2 linked regions of the Homo sapiens genome follow. The protein of the gene in region 2 interacts with the protein of the main gene of each other region in a pairwise test. Each region holds a gene or a part of one and is shown on either strand. Other genes may lie near its edges.

Region 1 (10,041 bases), on a different chromosome or scaffold from region 2:
AATGCAAAATACCTGGTCAATAGTTTTTATAGAAGTGGTAATATTTTAGACGTCTTGAGATAAATGAAATGTATTATTAAAATTAATTTCATCTGTTTCTTTCCACTTTTGAAAATGTGGCCACTGGGAAATTAGAATTAACATATGAGCTGACTTAAATTTCTGCTGGACGTGATGCTCCGAGGAAAGAATTCCAGAGATGAGGGGCTGGGGTCCCCTAGGTGTCAAGGACGGGCAACCCCCCAGTGAAACAGCCATCCCTGCACTGCAATGTTTCACACACACAATCTCTCAGGGACAGAAAAAAGACACAAGCCGCTGCAAAGTTACAAATTTATTGGTCTGGAAATAAATACAAATATCTCATTAAGAAACTCCTCTGGAAAGACTTGTGCACAATAGTTTCCCATCCGTACTCAGCCTCTCTTGCCCCGATCCCCGACTTTTCTACTCAAGGCCAGGGAAGGCCTCCAAGGTGATGGGCGGCAGGTAACGAGTCATTGCCTCTCACGCCACCTGGAAGGCTGGACTACTTCCTCCTCCCAACTGCGGGGTCCCAGAAATCCTCGGGTCCCAGTGGCTGACTTACAATATTCAATTCACTCTGACCAAACTTCCTATGAGAAAATCCACGGTGAGCCAAAATGAAAAGTACAAGGCAGTAGTACAGGAACCTGGCAGCCGCACTGGCCGCCCAGAAACGTCAGTGGTGCTGCCCCATTCGGCGAAAGGTTAGGGAGCAGGAAAAGAGGAAGCAGGAGAGGGAAGGAAAGTCCCATGGAATATGTATTCCAGAATCCTTACATTTTCTCAGCCACCGCTCCCCACGTGAGTTCCCACCCCCACCCCGACAAGAGCAAAGAGTTCTGAGGATCCAAGAACGTGACCGGGTCAGACAGGTTCAGCTACTGAGTTCACGTTCCAGCCCAGCTGTCGAAGATTGAAAACTGGATTTAAGCCAATCACACAAAATTCCTGGAACCAAGCTGGGATCCACAGAAATCACAACTGCACTGGATCTCAACACAACAACAAGGAATCCCTTACATCGAGTAACCCCAATTCCACCCCCACCCCAGTGCTCCTACTCCGGCCCCTGCAAGGACACTCATCACAGCCAGGGCAGCTGTGGAATGTTGCCCTCCATTCTAAGGAATGCAAAACAAATCTAAATGATCTTCTCCCTGAACAAGAATAATCACTGGCTCATGTATCAGGGGTGGGAGGTTGGGGCTGTGGAGGAGAGGCAGAAAGCAGAACTAAAGCCTTCAAAAACCATGATGCCCAACGTTTGCTGAAATATTTTTGTCTGTAAAGCCAGGAGATTTTGTCGCCTGCTTTTGCTGCACATTAAGAGGATGCTAGAAAAATCAAGCTTGTTTGCTTCTGCATTCAAAGCTTTCTAGATGCACCAACTTTAAAAATCGGTTTCTTCAAGTTAACTACGTAGATTTGTTGTTCCAAATGCCTCTAGCCTCGACATGAATCCCACCTTTTCCCCCTTCCTGTTTTGCCTGTTTAAAAGAGGTGCCTGCATGTCACTATTACCCCCCTCCCCAAATGAGAAAAGGATTTTGTTTCCGGAAACTGGATCAGCTTCTCCTCAGTTAAAGAGGAAACGGGAAGTGGGCGGCTGGCCTTCTGACCAGGCACCCGTTTGAACCAGGATGCTCAGGGCGGCCTAGGCTTGGCTTTGTGAAGTGTGTGCTGCTACGCGTCTTGTTTTTGGCAGTTTGGTGTCTCTGAGGGAGGGGAGGAGAGTGGCAACCGGCCACTGGTTAATGGAAGAGGATGCGATGCGGAGATGCTTGCTTCCTTCCTTTGGTCCACCGCCACCCCGCCTTTGGAGAGGGCACCCACGTAATAGACCTCATTTGTCTCCACCAGAGCTCACTCTTACAAAATAAGCTTTGGATTAATACCGAGTTAGGCGCAGTATGGCAGGCAGGGGGCGAAAAGGGGCCGGGGAGGAGGGGGCCACTACAGAGATCAGAGTCCGGGGGCGGCAGCTGGGCAGGCCGCCTAGCAGGAGACCTCCATGGACTTGGGCCCGGCGCTGTTCCCAGCAGCACCCGAGTTGGGGGTGATGTCCAGGTGGGCCCCCTCGCTGGTGTGCGAGCGGCTGCGGGTGCCCTCGCTGGTGTGGGAGCGGCTTCGGGTGCCCTCGCTGGTGTGGGAGCGGCTGCGGGTGCCATCCAGAGAAGTGACGCTGGAACCAGAGGCTGTGCGGGACCGCATCAGGCGGGTCATGCTAGCCGAGGGCACTAGGGGAACAAGAGACAGCCGGTTAGAGGGCAGGAGACTGCCAGGTGAGGAGCCAGGCATGCCCGTCCACCAGCCACATGCTCTTCTACGTGCCAGCCCCAGAGAAGACTTGATCCCTGCAGCCATCCAGCTGCTGGGCCCCCGTCCTCTCCATGTCCACTCGGAGAGAGAGATGGCAAGGCCCAGATGCGGGAAGGAACTGCCGCAATCACACCATGAGTGACTTGAACCCAGATCTGGGTCTGAACCCCAATTCTGCCACCTGTTAAAAGCTGTGTAATTTTGAGAGTGTCCCCCTGAGCCTCCCTGTTCCCATCTGTAAAGCAAGTATGTTAAATACTGACCCCTGGTATCAGCACCTGTGTGTACGCCCATGACCCCATGCTGTCCATGATCACTGGAGCAGGGAGGACACCTGGGGTCAGTGGCCCTGCACATCACAGGTGGGGAAAGGGAGAGGGGCCACACGGCAAGTTCCCGGCATGGCTATTCGTTGTCATCTCTCCCAAAGAAGCCTGTCAGCCCAGGTGCTAACAAGGGCGCTGTCTATTCTTTGGGATCTTCTCTGAGACCTCAAATGCTCTTGCACATGGCACGTGCAAGTGGCACATGCTGATGGGGTAGCACGTGCTGATGGGGTGGAATGAGGAGGAACAATCCTGCCCACCTGTACCGGGTGGGACAGTGTCCCGGAAGATTCACACCTACCTGAAACTTCAGAAGGGAACCTTATTTGGAAATAGGGTCTTTGCATATGTAATTAGTTAAGGATCTTGAGATGAAATCATCCTGGGTTGAGAGGGAACCCTAAACCCAATGACTGTGATGTCCTTATAGAAACAGCACACAGGGATATGCAGGGGAGAAGTCCACGCAAAGACAGAGGCTGAGATTGGAGTGATGCAGCCACAAGCCACATAAAGCCAAGGATTGCTGGGGCCACCAGAAGCCAGGAAGAGGCATGGAAGGTTCTTCCACAGCAGCGTTGGAGGGAGCAAGGCCCTGCCCACACCTTGATTTTGGACTTTAGGCCTCCTGAACTTTGAGAGAATGGATTTCTATTGTTTTCAGCCACCCAGTTTGTGGAGATTTGTTACGGCAGCTTTAGGAAACTAGTACTCCACCCAACTGAAGCATCATGGCTAGGAGGCCACACTGAGTCAGACATCAGAAACAGGGGCAGTTGATCCACACCAAGCATGCAGGGCTTATGTTATCTCCTTGATAGGCACAGGGAGGGGCTTTTGATGTCAGGCACTCCCAAACAGAATTAATCCTTGCTGAATTGTCTTAAAGAGCTAGTTTTGAATTCAGAAAGAATTGGGGTCAATGCCACATCCGCAGCTCACATATTTCTCTGAGCCCCTACTTCTCACCCACAAATCTGGGATGTCTACTGAGCAGGATGAGAAGCGTACAGTGAGCACTGATGCCAGGTGTGCAAAGGGTTCATCAAGCCAGCACCCCGTGGTGTGCAGAAGGCCAGTGACCGGTTCCTTTCCTTCTCTTTGGCTGATGCCTTTGAGACCATAGCTCTTCCTGTTATTTTCCCCCCAAGACCTGCAGGAGGCTTCAGCTTTCTGGTAATAGAAGCCGATTTGGGGAGAAAGATGAGGTCTAGCATTCACTTCCTTTCTCTCCAGAACACACTCTCAAAGCAGAAATCCAAACCCTGGCGGGACCAAGACAAATGGGAGCCACAATTCACACCGTGCAGGGTAAAGCAGGACTGCCCCGCGGCTGTCTCCATGGCTGTCTCCAATGACAACCTTTGCCTGCAACTTCCGTCGGGGAAAGCAGGCTAGAAAGGCAGGAGCCCCACTAGCAGATAGCTTCTGTTGGAAGAGGGCACCTGGGGATGTGGATCCTGCCTGAGCCTGAGGCATGGAAATCAAACCTGCCAGCCTCGCCTTGCTAGAGCTAATCATGGCTAAGGCCAATGCTAGGACTGCAGTCAGCTTACCAAGCATACTCTTACTATACATGGGCAAACAGTTTAAGGAAATGATAAAAGGGATCAGAAGTTCAATAACTTCCTAGTAAGGGAGGACACACGAATTATAGTTCCAAGCAGTAGGGTCAGAAGAGCCACTAGTCATGTCAGGGCCGGACCATGGCTGACAGGCCCACAGCACTGAGTGTGGCTGCTGTTCAGCCGAGTTACAACTCGCCAGGGTCTGTCCTAGTCCTGGGACAGCACTTCTGGAAAAAAGGCTGTATGTGTCTAACAAACTATAACTGCAAAATAAGAACGAGTGAGTTCCTGAATGATGCTTCCAATGTATCCTCCACTTCCCAAAGCTCATGACTTGACTATGGCATGCTCCACCTTGAATGTAAGCAACTTTGTTAGCCACTTCCACAGAGCTTCACAGTCTTCAAAGAATTTCCACAGATCCGCCCTCTGCTCCCTGCTTACAACCCCGAAGCCTCAGCTTCATCACTGATAAGATGGGCTAAGAATATGTCAAAGGAGTACTGTGATGGTTCAGTGAGATAAAATAATGTGTTAGTAATCTTTCATCATCATCGACACCATCTTCATCATCACTGTAGCTAGTGGTCTCTTAAAACTTGTGATCAAAATTTTTAAAAATGTTATTGTTTCACTGTTGGTCATTGTCTTGGTGCTTAAAGGGACAGTCCTCATCTAAACCCCCCAAAATCCCTGGTGTGAAACAACTTCTATTCAACAAAGGAGGAAAAATGAGCCTCACTGATAAATGAGAGGCTAGATCCTCCAGGCTGCCACATGCCCTCCACACACCTAACTGTTTCCTCCCAGAAAGCTGAAGCTGGCCAGGGGGACACAGAATTGCTCATCCAAACCTGGCTCAGGACAGAGCACTTCCAATTCCGACACATGCCCCGACCCACTGCACACGGGGAATGCCATACTCACTGTATCCCATGCCCTGCACGAAGTACTTGAAGGCCTCAGCGAGCTTGGCCGGCTGCGAGAGACAAGGAGAGAAAATGCAGTCAGTTGCTGGGGAGCCAGATCACCCGAGGCCATGGGGGGCTGTGCCTGTGGTCACCTTCATTTGAGAGTTTGGCTCAAGACAAAAGCCATCACGTGTTGACAGGACAAAACACAAAAGTAAGAGTATGGGACAATGATGGGAAATTCACCCCACAGCTGTGGAACTTGGACAAGTTACATGACCTGTCTGAGCCAGTTTCCTCACCTGTAATACAGGGCAGAGTATCACAGCTATTTCTGTGTGTTTCTGAGGAGATTACCATCCACAAAGGGACATGTCTAACCCAGCAAGTGGAACATAACTGCATCGGCATCATGAGCCACTCCCAATGCAAGGGGCTTTGCTGCGTTCATTCATTTACTCCTGACAACCCCTCACGAGGTCAGTGCTACCTTAGATACATTTCATAGCTGAACAGATTTGGACAGGTAAATCCACTCAGGGTCCCACAACAAGTAAGTGGTGGGTCCTGTACATTAACCCAGGGCTCTCCAAACCTAAAACACTTGTTCTTGAGGCAAATCACTGTCAGCCTCAATAGCAGGCTGGCTGAAAGAAGGGATGATGGATAGATGGATGGGTGGAAAGAAAAGGATGGATGGAAAGAAGGAAGGAAAAAAGAAAGAAAGGAAGAGAAGGAAGGAAGGAAGGAAAGATGGATTAAAAAAAGAATTGATGGACAAAAGGAAGAAAAAAAGAGAAATATGAACAAAAGAAGGACAAATAAAAGGAAGAAAGGATATGAAGAAGAATGAATGGATGATGGTTGGATGGTTCGTTGGATGGGTAAACAAACCAATTAATTAACAACTAACTGGGCTACTTTAAGTGAAATGCGTATGGAATGCTGAGACCACATCCAGTTCTACCAGTTCTCTCAGTTCATTTAATGTAAACTTGGAGGTGAATGCTCAAATATCAAGGGCATACGTGCAAGGCGTATCTGTTCTTCAGTTAATCCCAACTGTTCTATCCAGTGCCCTGGGTCCTATTCTCCTGAGGCAGTGAGAGGGCACTGGTAGAGGCTGGGCTGACCCCCCTCCCTGCTCTCCACTAACTCCTGCCAGGATTCCACAAAGAGCCAAATGACATTTAAAAGAGCGGCTATGCTCAAATTGCCCTCTGGAATTTGTGTGACAGTGGAAGAAAGAGACAAGAGAAGCAGGTCAGGGCTGCAGGGAACAGGGACGCCTGTGTTCGAGATGGTGGAGAGAACCAAGAATACACGCTTGGGAATGAGAACACTTGGGCCCAATTTTAGCTCCAGTAATCATGGGCAATCTCTCTCAACTTTTGGCCTCAGTTTCCTCTTCTGTGACACTGGGATAAAATGCTTGCTCTTCCCACCTCTGAGGACTATTGCAAGGACCTAATTTAATCAAGGATGGGAAAACCCTGTGTAAACATACACCCAACCTGCAACGGCATGAGGACGACAGTGTCACACAGGAATTGCTCCCCCCTGTGCTGGTGTCCTCGAAGCCTGTGCTCGTTGCACTCCTCTGAAGCTCTGAAAATTCTTTTAATTATGACCAGGGTTACATCTGTTCTCATTTTAAGTAGAGAAAGAAAAAAAGGAGGAAGAAAGGAGGCAGGGCAGGTTTTGGATAAAAAAGATGACAAAAAACTCTATTTCATTTTAAGATGGAACACAAAACTGTCAGGATATAAAATTATAAGACAACAAATTAAAAGTTTACTTGTTAGGTTGGTGAGATTCTTTATAGGAGGGGAAATTGAAGGGATCAGTTACGTAGCAAACACATTACGTTGATCAATGTGTTTATTTGTACATGTGCACACACATTTACACATGCACACAGACATGTGTACACATGCACACACACAGACGTGTACACATGCACACACAGAAACATGCATGCACACACACACAATTTGGCTTAATCTCCTCCATGTCCCTCTGCTCTGGGCTGGAGCTCCTTGCGGCCCTTCACTCCAGCAGAAGCCCGTGGTCTTTGGGGCAGACATACCCAGATTCTGACCCATGATGACCAAGGTGTGTCTACTTGGCAAATCCCCCAACCTCTGTGAACCGCAGTATCACCTACTCCACAGGGGTTGGTTCCTAGGGAATCAGAGTCCTCCTATATAGCACCTTTTCCCAACAGTCCACAAACTGTCATCCGATGTCACAGCAAGGTAATGAGGGAACAGGTGTCACAGAGGCACATGCACTCCACCCAGGGGGAAGCGACAGCTGTATAATGCAAAAGCCAACATGGCACTCACCTGGGAGATCTGCGGGAGGCCGCCACAGTCCGCCATCTAGGAGAGAGGGAAGCTCGTTAGTGCCAAACACCACAGCCAAGGCCCTCTGCGCTCTATGAATTTTTTCCGAAAGGATGCCCATCCGCCCGCTGCCCTGCCCTGCCTTGTCCTGCCTTACAAAGGAGGAACAGGGTGGACCGTGGGTAGGGAACACTCCAGCCCCACCAGGCAAGGCTGCTGGTGTCTCCGTGGCAACCATCACTTGCAGCTTGCTACGTGCCAGGCACTATGCTAGGCCCTACAGATAATTTCACTCCATTCCCCAAGAACCATGGAAGGTACAGCTGTCCCATTTTACAGGCAGAAACTGGGCCAGGAAGAGCTTGAGGGACTCGCAAGGTTCCAGGCCAGGATCTCTCTGACCCGAAAGGGTTTGATAAACAAGACCCTCTTCATATATTCCCTTGAAAGTTTCCCTCAAAAGGAAGTGGTTGAATTTGGGTCTTCAGGCCGGATTCAGCTGACCAGTACCCTTCCTAAATGGTGGACGTTCAAAGTCCCTGTGAAATCACCGAACCGCAAGAGGCCATTGCAGGCTGTGAGACTGTGCAGCCAGCCTGGAAATGGGCAGCGCTGACGGCAAGGGAGCAGGGGGAGGCTGCGGGGAGGGTGGCCTGGGGTGAAACGGGGCTGGAGGAGTTCATGGGAGTGGTGAGGCTGTGGGCATCCTACAGCCCAGGGCGCCTCAAGTCTGGACCCCCAACACTAGCCACAAAGCGACACTGACCTGGGGCAGCCCTCAGCTCAACCAGCACGCAGGGAGCAGGATGCCCGAATTTTTCCTCCAGGCGGGGCACTCAGCACATTAGACTGACGCTGTGGAAGTCTCCAGAATCAGGCCTAAGTGAGTTCTGTTTCTGGATCTACCATCAAATCGGCCACCCCACCTCAGTCAGGCCACCTACCCTTTGCTGTAGGTTGTGGTTGAATTGTGTCCCCAAAATAGACATACTGAAGTCCTAACCCCAGTACCTATCACTGTGGCTATACTTGGAAATAGGGTCTTTGCAGGTAAAATCAAGTTAAGATGAGGTCATATTGGATTAGAGCGGGCCCTAAAGCTAACGGCTGATGTTATTAAAAGAAGAAGGAAATTTGGACATAGACGCAGAGATACAATCGGGAGAGTGCTGAGTGAGGATGGAGGCAGAGACTGGAGTGATGTGTCTACTAGCTAAGGTGAACCAAGTGTGGCCAGCAGCCACCAGAAGCTGGAAGAGGCAGGCAGCATTCTCCCCTAGCACCTTCAGAGGGAGCACGGCCCTGCCCACACCTTGATTTCGGACTTTTAGCTTCCAGAACTAAAAGGGAATAAATATCTGTTGCTTTAAGCCACCCATTTTGTGATACTTGTGACAACCGCCCTCAAAGTACGGCATTATGCAAGCTTGACGCCCAGCAGCTTCTAATCTTGCAATTTCCTTTTGAGGGAATCTTGAAAGAAAATCTATGTAAAGAGCCCAATACAGGAAAACAGCCTCCCACTCAATAAGTATCGGACACCCCCTACATGCCTTTCAAAGGCATTCTACTTCTATGGGGGAAGTTGAGGGCACGGTGACCTACAGATGCCACCTCTTTGTCCTTCCCCCAGTGCGAGGGAGCCGCCTCATCTCCACCCAGGTCCCGCCTGGTCATCTGCCCCTGCAGGGGTGCACCCCGGCTGAGAGGCCCCTCTGAAAGGTTCCCACTCTTGGGCTGCATCTCCGGACGAGGCCGCCACAAACAGCCAGTGGTTTGCATTGTGCAATCAGTCATAACTGGCAAAGGACTGGCGGAGGTTGCTACAGACACTCAAATCCAGCTGCGAGTGAGCTGGCTCACCATGTGCTCAGATGAACTTGCTGGACAAAGTCCTGACCTTCCCCGGCTGTGGGACACGTCTCTTCTTATTGTGACAAGCAGAGAGCCCCTCTTGGAGGAATGTCCTGGCCCCAGCCTATGGAGGGCCCTTGCCAAGCCATCCCTGGTCCCTCTATCCCCAAAGCCCCCAGACCAGCAGCCTATTGATTCCTGCAGTCCCAGAGAAGGATCCCTCATCTTTGCAGCCTCAGATCACCAGTCAGCACCCAATATATGTTCATAAACAGATAGATTAAATCATTAATTCTATAGTTTCTGATCGTGTGCCTTGCCTTTTTCAAGCCTAACTCAATGTTGCAGAAAACGTCTGAGAGTTTCTAAGAAATAACAAACACGAACCCCCACTGTTTTCCCTGTACCTTGAGGAGAGTGGTCTTTGTTGGGTCCAATTTTGAGTTGCACTCCACCTGCACAAGAGGGAGGAAATCTGTTAATTTTCTACGTGAAGCCAAAGCCAAAACATCTCCCCCTTCTCCGCCACTCTGCCACCGTCACCAGAAACTCCAGTATTTCTGCTGGCAAAGAAGAAAGTATGTGGAGTTATTGGGATTCAGCAGATGTGGCTTGAAATCCCAGCCTTGCCATTACCAGCTGTGACAACTTGGATAAGTGATTTAACTTCTTTGGGCCTCAGTTTCCT
Region 2 (10,208 bases):
CAAAAAACAAAACAAAAGAGCTATTTTAGCAACAAAATTAGGACCATTTCCATGCCACTGCCATATGACCAGGTGGTTGTTCATCATAGCAAAGGGAGAATTCTTAAAAATAGGCTGTGCCATAATTAAGTCACTTTTCATGTACTATTTAAAGTTTACACAAAAAAGGCTTAAAATTCCAAGATGAGTTGTTAATACAAATGCACACTCCTCTAAGACCAAAGACATGATCAGCATACACTGGGTCCAGGTTCCTTACATTTTAAGACACTATAAATGGCTTAGTTTGGGGGACATGACTAGAGAAGGGTAGAACCTATTCCCACAGTATATTTCTATTTCCCTATATCAATAAGGGAAAGTAAGGCAAATAAAAGAAATTCTCTCAGTGGAATGTGAGGGAGTTAATAGTGGTTAACTGGCCGGGCGCAGTGGCTCACGTCTGTAATCCCAGCACTTTGGGAGGCTGAGGCGGGCGGATCACCTGAGGTCAGAAGTTTGGGACCAGCCTGACCAACATGGTGAAACCCTGTCTCTACTAAAAATACAAAATTAGCCGGGCATGGTGGCGCATGCCTATAATCCCAGCTACTCGGGAGGCTGAGGCAGGAGAATTGCTTGAACCCAGGAGGCGGAGGTTGCGGTAAGCCGAGATAGCGCCATTGCACTCCAGCTTAGACAACAAGAGCAAAACTCCGTCTCAAATAATAATAATAATAATGGTTAACTTTCTTTTCTACCCCACATAAGTTGTTCAATACTTTAATACATCAACAAGATCCCACAAGGTAGCAGATCTCATAATAAAAAGAGTGCTGAGGCATCCAAACCGATTTAAGAGATGGTGAGCAATGGGCTTATTGATGACAACGCCTCCTTCCTGTTTCAGAATTTCCTCTAGAGACCTCAAGCAGTTCACAACTACAATTGGATCCTGGTCACGCAGCAAACTGTATAATTCATTTACCAGGGCACCATCTATAAAAAAGAACAAAGTTCTTAGATAAAGAAGGAAAGCTTCAGAGTAACAAGGATGTAGCCAGAGTAATAGCTCCAGGTAGACAAAGTTGAACTTCTCTGCTACAAAAATGACAAAGGCCACACTAAAGTGCAAGGCAAAAAAAAAACTGCCATGTCCAGACTGTTCTAAGCAGCTAATACAAAGGATCTCATTGGGGCCCCAGAGAAAGGACTTCTCATCTCCAGAAGATACCAAGCCCTGCATCCTACTTAAAGAGATATGTACAGAACTGGGGCCACATTATTATTTTCTACCAAAGCCACACAATCTTTTTTAAAGTTATACATAATGGAGGCACATTGACCATGATGGATTACACTGAACTTACCTACTTCAGAGTCTCCATGAAGATTATGCATCTTGGCACATCCAAGGACTGCCACTCTCCTGACATATGAAGCCTTATCCCGCAGACCATTGAGAATAGGCTGTTGTATATACTCCTGCACACCAGGCATCCTAAGCAACACATCCTGGAGTTAGCCAGATTCTGAAATACTAATTTTGACATACCTCAGCCCCTGTTCACCTAACAGATGGTTTAGTAGATGCTGCACCCATCAGATCATGAAGAATTGCAGAAAGCCTCTATCAAGCTTAAAAAGCCATAATTTGACTTTTCTGTTTTTTTCTTGTTTTTTTCAAGATGGGGTCTCACTTTGTCACCCAGTGGCCCGATCATAGCTCACTGCTGCCTTGAATTCCCGGGCCCAAGCCATCCTCCTGCCTCAGCCTTCCTAGTAGCTGAGACTACAGGTGCGTGTCACCATGCCCATTTAATTTTTTGTAGATATAGGCTCTCACCATCTTGCCCAGCTGGTCTCAAATTCCTGGGCTCAAGCAATCTTCCTGTCTAAGCCTCCCAAAGTGCTGGGTCTACAGGCATGAGCCACTGTGCCCAGCCTAATTTGACTTTTCATTTGGAATAATGATGCACAGGCAGCAAAAAAAGATATACACATAATTGTTTAGAGATATTTAACCAAAACTGAGGACTATTTTACTTAGAGTGAGAATCAAAAACTCCCTCTAATAAAATTATATGATACAGGTTATTAAGCCAAAGCAGTGGCTGAAAATCTGAGTTCAGGGTACAATAATGTTTTCCCCAGTATTAAGGAGCTCAAATAAATTATCCTCTTTAAAAACCTACCCTGTGATCACTTGAATTCATCAGCCATTTAGGACCAGACAGAGAAGAGGGTACTCACCTGAGGCTACACATGCTCCGTAACGCCAGCCCTCGCACCATTGGATTGGGGTCTGAGCAGTCTTTGCACAGCGTATTGATGGCCAGGAGAGCCAGATCTGGTTTCAGGGGAGCATATGTGCACATGTACAGATAAACCAACTTCTTCTGGACAATATCTACAGTGGCACTGGCCTTCACCATTTCCATAAAAACACCAGACATGTCCAAGCCTTGAGTCATGTACCTGAACAACGCACATGACAGAAGGAAGTAAAATGCAAAATCCCCAACTTACAATGGAGGGAGTTTTACTTACATATCTCCTGATTACCCAACTAGATTGTGATCTCTTAGAGGGTAGCAGCCAGGATTACCTTGTCTATTATATCACACAGTACTTCATACCATAGGCCTACAATAAACATTATTCTTCTATTCATTCAACAAACACTTATTATTATTTTTGAGACAGAGTCTTGCTCTGTTACCCAGGCTAGAGTGCAGTGGCACAATCTCGGCTCATTATAAGCTCCGCTTCCCAGGTTCAAGCGATTCTCCTGCCTCAGCCTCCCGAGTAGCTGGGACTACAGGTGCGTGCCACCACGCCCAGCTAATTTTTGTATTTTTAGTAGAGACGGGGTTTCTCCATGTTGGCCAGGCTGGTCTCGAACTCCTGACTGCAGGTGATCCACCCGCCTTGGCCTCCCAAAGTGCTGGGATTACCAGCGTGAGCCACCGCACCCAGCCTCAACAAACACTTATTGAATCCCTAGTACTTTGGTGAAATTCAACTTTTACATCCAGGGACATGCTCTTGGGACATAATCTTGAAGAAGGTGTGGTCTCAAACCTCTAGGAACTTCAAATCTATTAATGAGCCAGATGAGAATACCGTTAATTACAGTATGATAGATAAGTACTTAAACAGAAGTATTGTACAAGGTGTAGAGGGGATTCAGAGGTCTGACACTGGCAGGAAGTCAGAAAATGTTTCTTCACAGAGGAAGTAATACTTTAGCTGAATGAGCAGGAGCTCACTAGGCAGATGTAATAGCAAGGTAAAGATACATGCTATGAGGTAAGTAGACATGAGCAGGAGCAGCACACATTTTTTTAAGAGTCTGTAGGTAGTTGAATTAACAGCTTGTTCCTTGGGTGCTGTGATAAGTTTGGACTTTATTGTTTCTCAGACTGGTCTCCTACTGGAACCAACTGAAATGTTTATTAAAAATACAGATTCCTGGGTTCCCTCCCACCCTACTGAAATCAGAATCAGTCCCTGGACTGGATGACAAAAAGCACCCCAAGGGATTTTTATGCATAGTAAAGTTTGTGAACCATAGCTGTAGGCAAGAGTTATGTGTTCAGGTATGTATAATGGAAAAATTCTGTCTCAAATGAGGCAAAGTGGCCTACTAGTAAGCTGCTGCAATTGCTTTATTGATGAAGGCCTGGACCAGAACAACAATGCTAATAAACAAGAGAGGATGGATATTTAGAATTATGAATTCAAACCATCTGACATAAGAAGTGAGAGATCAGGTGTCCTCAAGGTTGGCTCCCACGCATAGTCGGCTGCTGGTGGCATTCATCAACACAAATGTAAGCTGAACAGGTTTGAGGAAGACGGAAGAATGTCCGGGCTATTTCGGACATACTTTTGATAAACCACGCACGTGGAAATGCCAAGCAGGCAGTGGGATACGTGGGTCTGAAGCTAAAAAAGGAAGTCTGTACTAGCTATATTATAGATCCAAGAGTCACCAGTAATTGCTCAAGCCCGTGATATGGAGGAAACTACCCAGCTGAGTAAAAGATGCTGCAGAGGGGAGACTGACATGGTACTCCAAAGCAGCAGGACGAAGACCGAACCATATAACTGCCACGTGTGAAAGCTAATTCACCCTTTCAGAGAGACTGGGGCTAGTGAGCCCTGATGGGGATTGCAAAGGGAGCAGTTAGCACGCGAAGGGAGGTAGGTGATACCTAATCACTCGCTGGATGACATTCCGGTAGCGCAGCCTATCAGCTTGAATGTGAGGATTGCACAGAGCCTTCTTCAGCTCCTTCACCACGTCCTCGGAGCCAAGGTACGGCATCTTCCTAAGAGTCACAGGGCAGCTCCCACAGCTCCCACGGTAACTCGAGGGCTCCTTCTCGTCCTGATGTGGGAGCCTGAGTAAAGGAAATATGAGTCAGTGAAAATACAAAAGGCGAGATCTCGCCTCAGGCTCGGCTTCCGTAGGGCCGGCACGCTGGCCCTGACACACTTCCACGCCCTCCGCGACACCGCGAGCCCCACCCTAGGCTCTTCAGGCCCTACCGTCGGCCGGCAGGCCGTTCGCCCCGCCCACAGATCGCTCCCGCTACTTCTAGGTCCTCCGCCGGATTTCCAGCGCCGCGTCCGACTGACCGCAGACCCCTCCCTCTCCAGTTCCAGCCTTAATTCCCCCTCCACGCCGTTCTCATCGCGGATAGGCCCAATCTTGCTTTCTGCGGAAGTCCCGCCCCCTTGTCAAGAGACCAAACAGAAGACCGCTGCCGGTCTCCCCGCGAGCGAGCGCTAAGCGTAGTCCCGACTCCGACCTTAGGATGCCCTTCCCCCAACCTCTCACTCTCCAGGCGCAGCTGCGCGGCTCCCTCTGGTGGAGCTGCGGCGGGCAATCGGAAATCGGCTACTTTGGCCTGTCTCCTCCCTGCAGCGCGCGCTTTGAGTGCCCGGCTCGGCCTCCGCTCCCGCGCGGTTGGGAGTGTCCAGCGCCCTCCGCGATTTGGGCTCCAGCGGGCAGGGTGACTTCCTTTTTCTGCCCACTCTGGTAACTTATTGCTCTGCTGGGCTCTTTCCCTTAGGGTCTCTGGCCCTGTTCTTGCCCCAGCATGACTTTTATCGGGACGCCGTTGTGGAAGCCTCACGCAGGAGCCCTGCCCCCGTGGAGAAGATCCCACTGGTGACTCCAACCCTACCACCATGAATGGGGTCCTGATCCCCCATACGCCCATCGCAGTGGACTTCTGGAGCCTGCGCCGGGCTGGCACCGCACGTCTCTTCTTCTTGTCTCACATGCACTCGGACCACACCGTGGGCCTGTCTAGCACCTGGGCCCGGCCCCTCTACTGCTCCCCAATTACAGCCCACCTCTTGCATCGTCACCTACAGGTATGGGGCTGGAGTCGGTCTCCGAGAGCTGGTCCAGGCATCTGGGTTGGGACTTCAACCTGTCATTCTTGGAGTCATAGAATGGGGGCCACGAAAACTGATTTGGAAGTTGTTTGAACCCAAAAATGCATCTTTAACCCAGAATAGGAACGTGTTTTCGAAGTGACCAACTTGAGATAGTTAGCCATAAGTTGAGGAGATATTTTAATCCAGCCAAGGAAACTATTCCTACCTTTATAAGTAAGCTAGGCCGATGTTTCCCAAACTTGCCTTTTTTTTTTTTTTTTTTTTTTTTTTTTGAGACGGAGTCTCGCTCTGTTGCCCAGGCTGGAGTGCAGTGGCGCAATCTCGGCTCACTGCAGCCTCCGCCTCCCGGGTTCAAGCGATTCTCCTGTCTCGGCCTCCTGAGTAGCTGAGATTACAGGCGCACGCCACCACGCCCAGCTAATTTTTTGTATTTTTTGTGGAGACGGGGTTTCACCATGTTGGCCAGGCTGTTCTCTAACTCCTGACCTTAAGTGATCCGCCCGCCTCAGCCTCCCCAAGTGCTGGGATTACAAGCGTGAGCCACCACGCCCCGCCTAAACTTGCCTCATCTTAAGAATCCACCTAATGTGCTGGGTGGTTCTCCAGCTCTCTCCCCACCCCACCCTTAAGTCTCCAAGAGATTAAGATCAGGAGTAAGTTTGGGAATTGCTGACTAGACTGTTTGCTGAACTCTTTTTTTTTTTTTGAGATGGAGTCTCGCTCTGTCGCCCAGGCTGGAGTGCAGTGGCGCAAACTCGGCTCACTGCAAGCTCCGCCTCCCGGGTTCACGCCATTCTCCTGCCTCAGCCTCCCGAGTAGCTGGGACTACAGGCGCCCGCCACCACGCCTGGCTAATTTTTTTTGTATTTTTTAGTAGAGACGGGGTTTCACCGTGTTAGCCAGGATGGTCTCGATCTCCTGACCTCGTGATCCACCCGCCTCAGCCTCCCAAAGTGCTGGGATTACAGGCGTGAGCCACCACGCCCGGCCAGCTGAACTCTTAAATTGTACAAAGGGTGGGATGGGAAGTGGAAGGAGGAAGGGCAGATTGCTTGGGAATCCCCATTACAGCTTCTGCTCCCGGTGGCTCAGGATTTGGTCAGCTTTCCTGATTCATGTAAGGGATAGTCCCTGACCCGGGGAGGTAACGGAGAGGAGTCAGTGGTCACTGGGATGACTAACTGTTTTCTCAGGTATCTAAGCAATGGATCCAAGCCCTGGAGGTTGGTGAGAGCCATGTATTACCCCTAGATGAAATTGGACAAGAGACCATGACCGTAACCCTCCTCGATGCCAATCACTGTCCTGGTTCTGTCATGTTTCTCTTTGAAGGATATTTTGGAACCATCCTCTACACAGGTGGGCCTCTCAAGGAATCCCAGTGACTTCTCCAGACTAGATGTTTTTTTTTTTTTTTTTTTTTTTTTTTTTTAATGTATAGACTGGGGCCTCGCAGTGTTGCCGAGGCTGGTCTCAAACTCCTGACCTCAAGCAATCCTCCCGCTTCAGCCTCCACAGTAGCTAGGATTATTGGCACAAGCCACCACACCTGGCAGACTTTTCTTGAGCAGCCTTAACTCAATAGAAGTCTGGAGGCGCTGGAGGCCTTCTAACTTCATCACATATGAGCATAGTGACCCCATCTCAACTGATTTCCCACTGTTTTTTTTTCCTTCTTCTTTTTGAGACGGAGTTTCACTCTTGTCACCCAGGCTGGAGTGCAGTGGCGTGATTGTGGCTCACTGCAACCTCCGCCTTCTGGGTTCAAGTGATTCTCTTGCCTCAGCCTCCCAAGTAGCTGGGATGACAGGCGCCTGCCACCACGCCCAGCTAATTTTCGTATTTACTATTAGTAGAGACGGGGTTTCACCATGTTGGCCAGGCTGGTCTCGAACTCCTGACCTCAGGTGATCCACCTGGCTCGGCCCCCCAAAGTGCTGGGATTACAGGTGTGAGCCACTGCGCCTGGCCGATTTCCCACTCTTTAAGGGTCCGAACCTTGTGAAGAGTAATTGAAAAATAGGAGTAGGATGGAGACATTACAACAAAGAAACCATGCAGCTATACTGCCTAGTTCAGTGCCAGGCTACATAATAGTTTTTTCACAGACTAGTAAGCAAACGCCTGTCTATTGTTGGAGGTAGGAGAGGCTTGTCTTCTATTCTTTTGTCTCTGACCTTCTGCCCCCATGTACATATTCCTCCAGGTGATTTTCGATACACACCATCCATGCTAAAGGAGCCAGCCCTGACACTGGGGAAACAGATCCATACTTTATACCTAGACAACACCAATTGCAATCCAGCCCTGGTTCTTCCTTCCCGACAAGAAGCTGCCCACCAGATTGTCCAGCTCATTCGAAAACACCCACAACATAACATAAAGATTGGTGAGTTGTTTCCTTTCAGTTTCCTGTCACCTGTAGATAGTGAACTAGATTCTTTAAGGATTCTCACATCTTTCAGATCTTTGTGCAGTTCTCACTTTCTCCTACACTGACCACCTTATTTAAAATTGCAACCTGGCTAGGTGTGGTGGTTCATGCCTATAATCCCAGCACTTTGGGAGGCCAAGATGGGAGGGTCATTTGAGCCCAGGCGTTTGAGACCAGCTTGGGCAACATGGCAAGACCCTGTCTCTACAAAAAATTTAAAAATCAGTTGGGCACGATGGTGCGTGCCTGTGGTCCCAGCTACACAGGGGACTGAGACAGGAGGATTGCCTGGGTCCAGTAGGAGGTCAAGGTTGCAGTGAGCCATGTAAGTGCCATTGCACTCCAGCCTGGATGACAGAGCAAGACCCTGTCTCAATAAATGAATGAATGAATGAAATAAGTAAAACTGCAACCTGCCCACCATCCCCATTCCCAACTCCTGATCATCCATACCAATTCATTTTTTTCATTTTTTTATAGCACTCATATACTATATATATTTTTAAATATGCTATTGCTTACTTGTTGTCTATCATGCACTTCCTCTGGCCCATGCACATACGCGTGCACACACACACACACACAAGCATAAACTCCTTAAGAGCATCACTGGAAATGGGAAGAGACTTTGTGTGTTTGTGGAACAGAGAAGCAGCAGTCAGTATGACAGGCACACAGTGGGCAAGGAGGCTGAAAAGGCAAGAGGGGCTGAAGTGCTGTTAAGCCATTTTGGACTTGATCCTAAACCCAACCAAGAGCTATTGAAGGATTTTAAGTAGAAGAGGGACAATATGCACTCATCACCTTGCAATATATTCTATAATTTATGTATTTATTGGACTTTTTATTGTCTGATTCCCCCTGCTAGAATGTGAATTCCACTATGGCAGTCTCTGTTTTATTATGGGTGTATCACAAATGCCTACACTAATGCCTGACACAGAAGCATTCAATATGAATGAATGAAATTTATCAGAACATAGATATTTAAGTGAGCGTTGTGCTTTAAATTAAGTATACTGAAAAAACAGGTTTGTGCTTGTTGTACTGATTATAAATAGTATAAAACATTGTTGAGGACTCTTTCTTGGAGTTGCCATTTGGAATAGTTTATGAAAATACATTTTTGTTTTATAAAATAAATAAATGTAATAGATTTGGTTCTAAATTACTTTTTTGGTTGTTTCCAAATTTGTGAGTCTACAAAAGGACAAAGACTTGCCACCATTATAAATATTTGAAAAGGACATGTCTCAACTCTGAAAGGAGTTTCAAAATGAGACTAAACAAAGGCATTGAAAAAATTATATAACTTCCAGGGTGACTACCAAATCGATTGAGAAATATCCTCTACTCTCAGGATTGCTTAGCTACTTATAAAGACCTAACCATTCTTAATATTTTAATGCAGAATTTTCTCAAAAAAGCAAAGCTGGCTAGGAGGATGCTATAGTAAGCCTTAATTAATTTTGCAAATATGTAATAAGCCTCTACCCACTAAGTACCAAGTATCCAATAGGCAGTGGGGATATAAAGATGAATAAAATATAGTCTCTGACTTGGAGGGCTCACAGTCTGGTAGGGAAGGACCTGTGGGGAGGTGGAAGTGGGAATATATATAGAGAGAAGAAAAATCCGCTCCATTTGTGCCCAAGGAGTGAGATTTTGAACCATAATCAGGAATAAAGTGGATATAAATAATATATACTTCTTTTTATGGCGTTCACAATCTGGTTGTGGATTTGAAACTTCTTCAGAAAAAGTCTGAGAACAGCTATTAAACAACATCTCCCATATCTGTTACCATAACCATTTCCCAAATTAATGTCTCCATTTCTTTCTCTGTAAGTACTATTTGGGCCCTTCAATTGAAACTTCCACTCCAGCTTCTTCTCATCCTGGCAGTCAAATAATATTATTACCATATTTTTCTTTTTAAAGCCCTGCTCTGAGCATATTATTCTTATGATTAGAATTAGCCATTTTCCTGCTTCACACTCAGTGGCTCCCCTTCACTTACACAATGAAGTCCAAGCTTCTTAGCGGTACATATAAGACGCTCTATTATATGGCCCTTGCTTGCCTCTCTGGTATCATTTCTTATCAATTCCTTTTTTACTTTAGTAACAGCAAACTGACCCCTCTTAAAATGTTTTCCACTATACCCTTTCTACCCTTTCCTTGCCAGGTTAACCTTGCCCATCCTTTAAGATTTAGCCTAACGTTCCCTAACTCCATCACCTGTTAGATACAATACTGTATACTTTTTTTGTTTTTTTTTAAGAGACAGGGTCTCACTCTGTTGCCCAGGCTGGAGGGTAGTGGCATGATCACAGCTCACTGCAGCCTGGACCTCCCGGACTCAAGTGATCCTCCC

What was found.
Region 1: the proteins of DCLRE1B (region 2) and NDRG1 interact in binary tests that used the Homo sapiens proteins (3 or more experiments, as listed by UniProt).

The regions. Positions count from the first base shown.
Region 1 is NC_000008.11:133,236,856-133,246,896, forward strand, and holds the end of NDRG1 (protein NDRG1), read right to left. Parts: intron 9,809-10,041; coding exon 9,761-9,808; intron 7,536-9,760; coding exon 7,500-7,535; intron 5,220-7,499; coding exon 5,168-5,219; intron 2,265-5,167; coding exon 2,023-2,264; 3' UTR 320-2,022; downstream 1-319. UniProt on the Homo sapiens protein: Stress-responsive protein involved in hormone responses, cell growth, and differentiation. Acts as a tumor suppressor in many cell types. Necessary but not sufficient for p53/TP53-mediated caspase activation and apoptosis.
Region 2 is NC_000001.11:113,900,406-113,910,613, forward strand, and holds the start of DCLRE1B (5' exonuclease Apollo), read left to right. Parts: upstream 1-4,920; 5' UTR 4,921-5,181; coding exon 5,182-5,370; intron 5,371-6,590; coding exon 6,591-6,756; intron 6,757-7,603; coding exon 7,604-7,786; intron 7,787-10,208. Other genes in the region: AP4B1 (AP-4 complex subunit beta-1), read right to left, coding at 831-978, 1,350-1,480, 2,233-2,457, 4,200-4,312.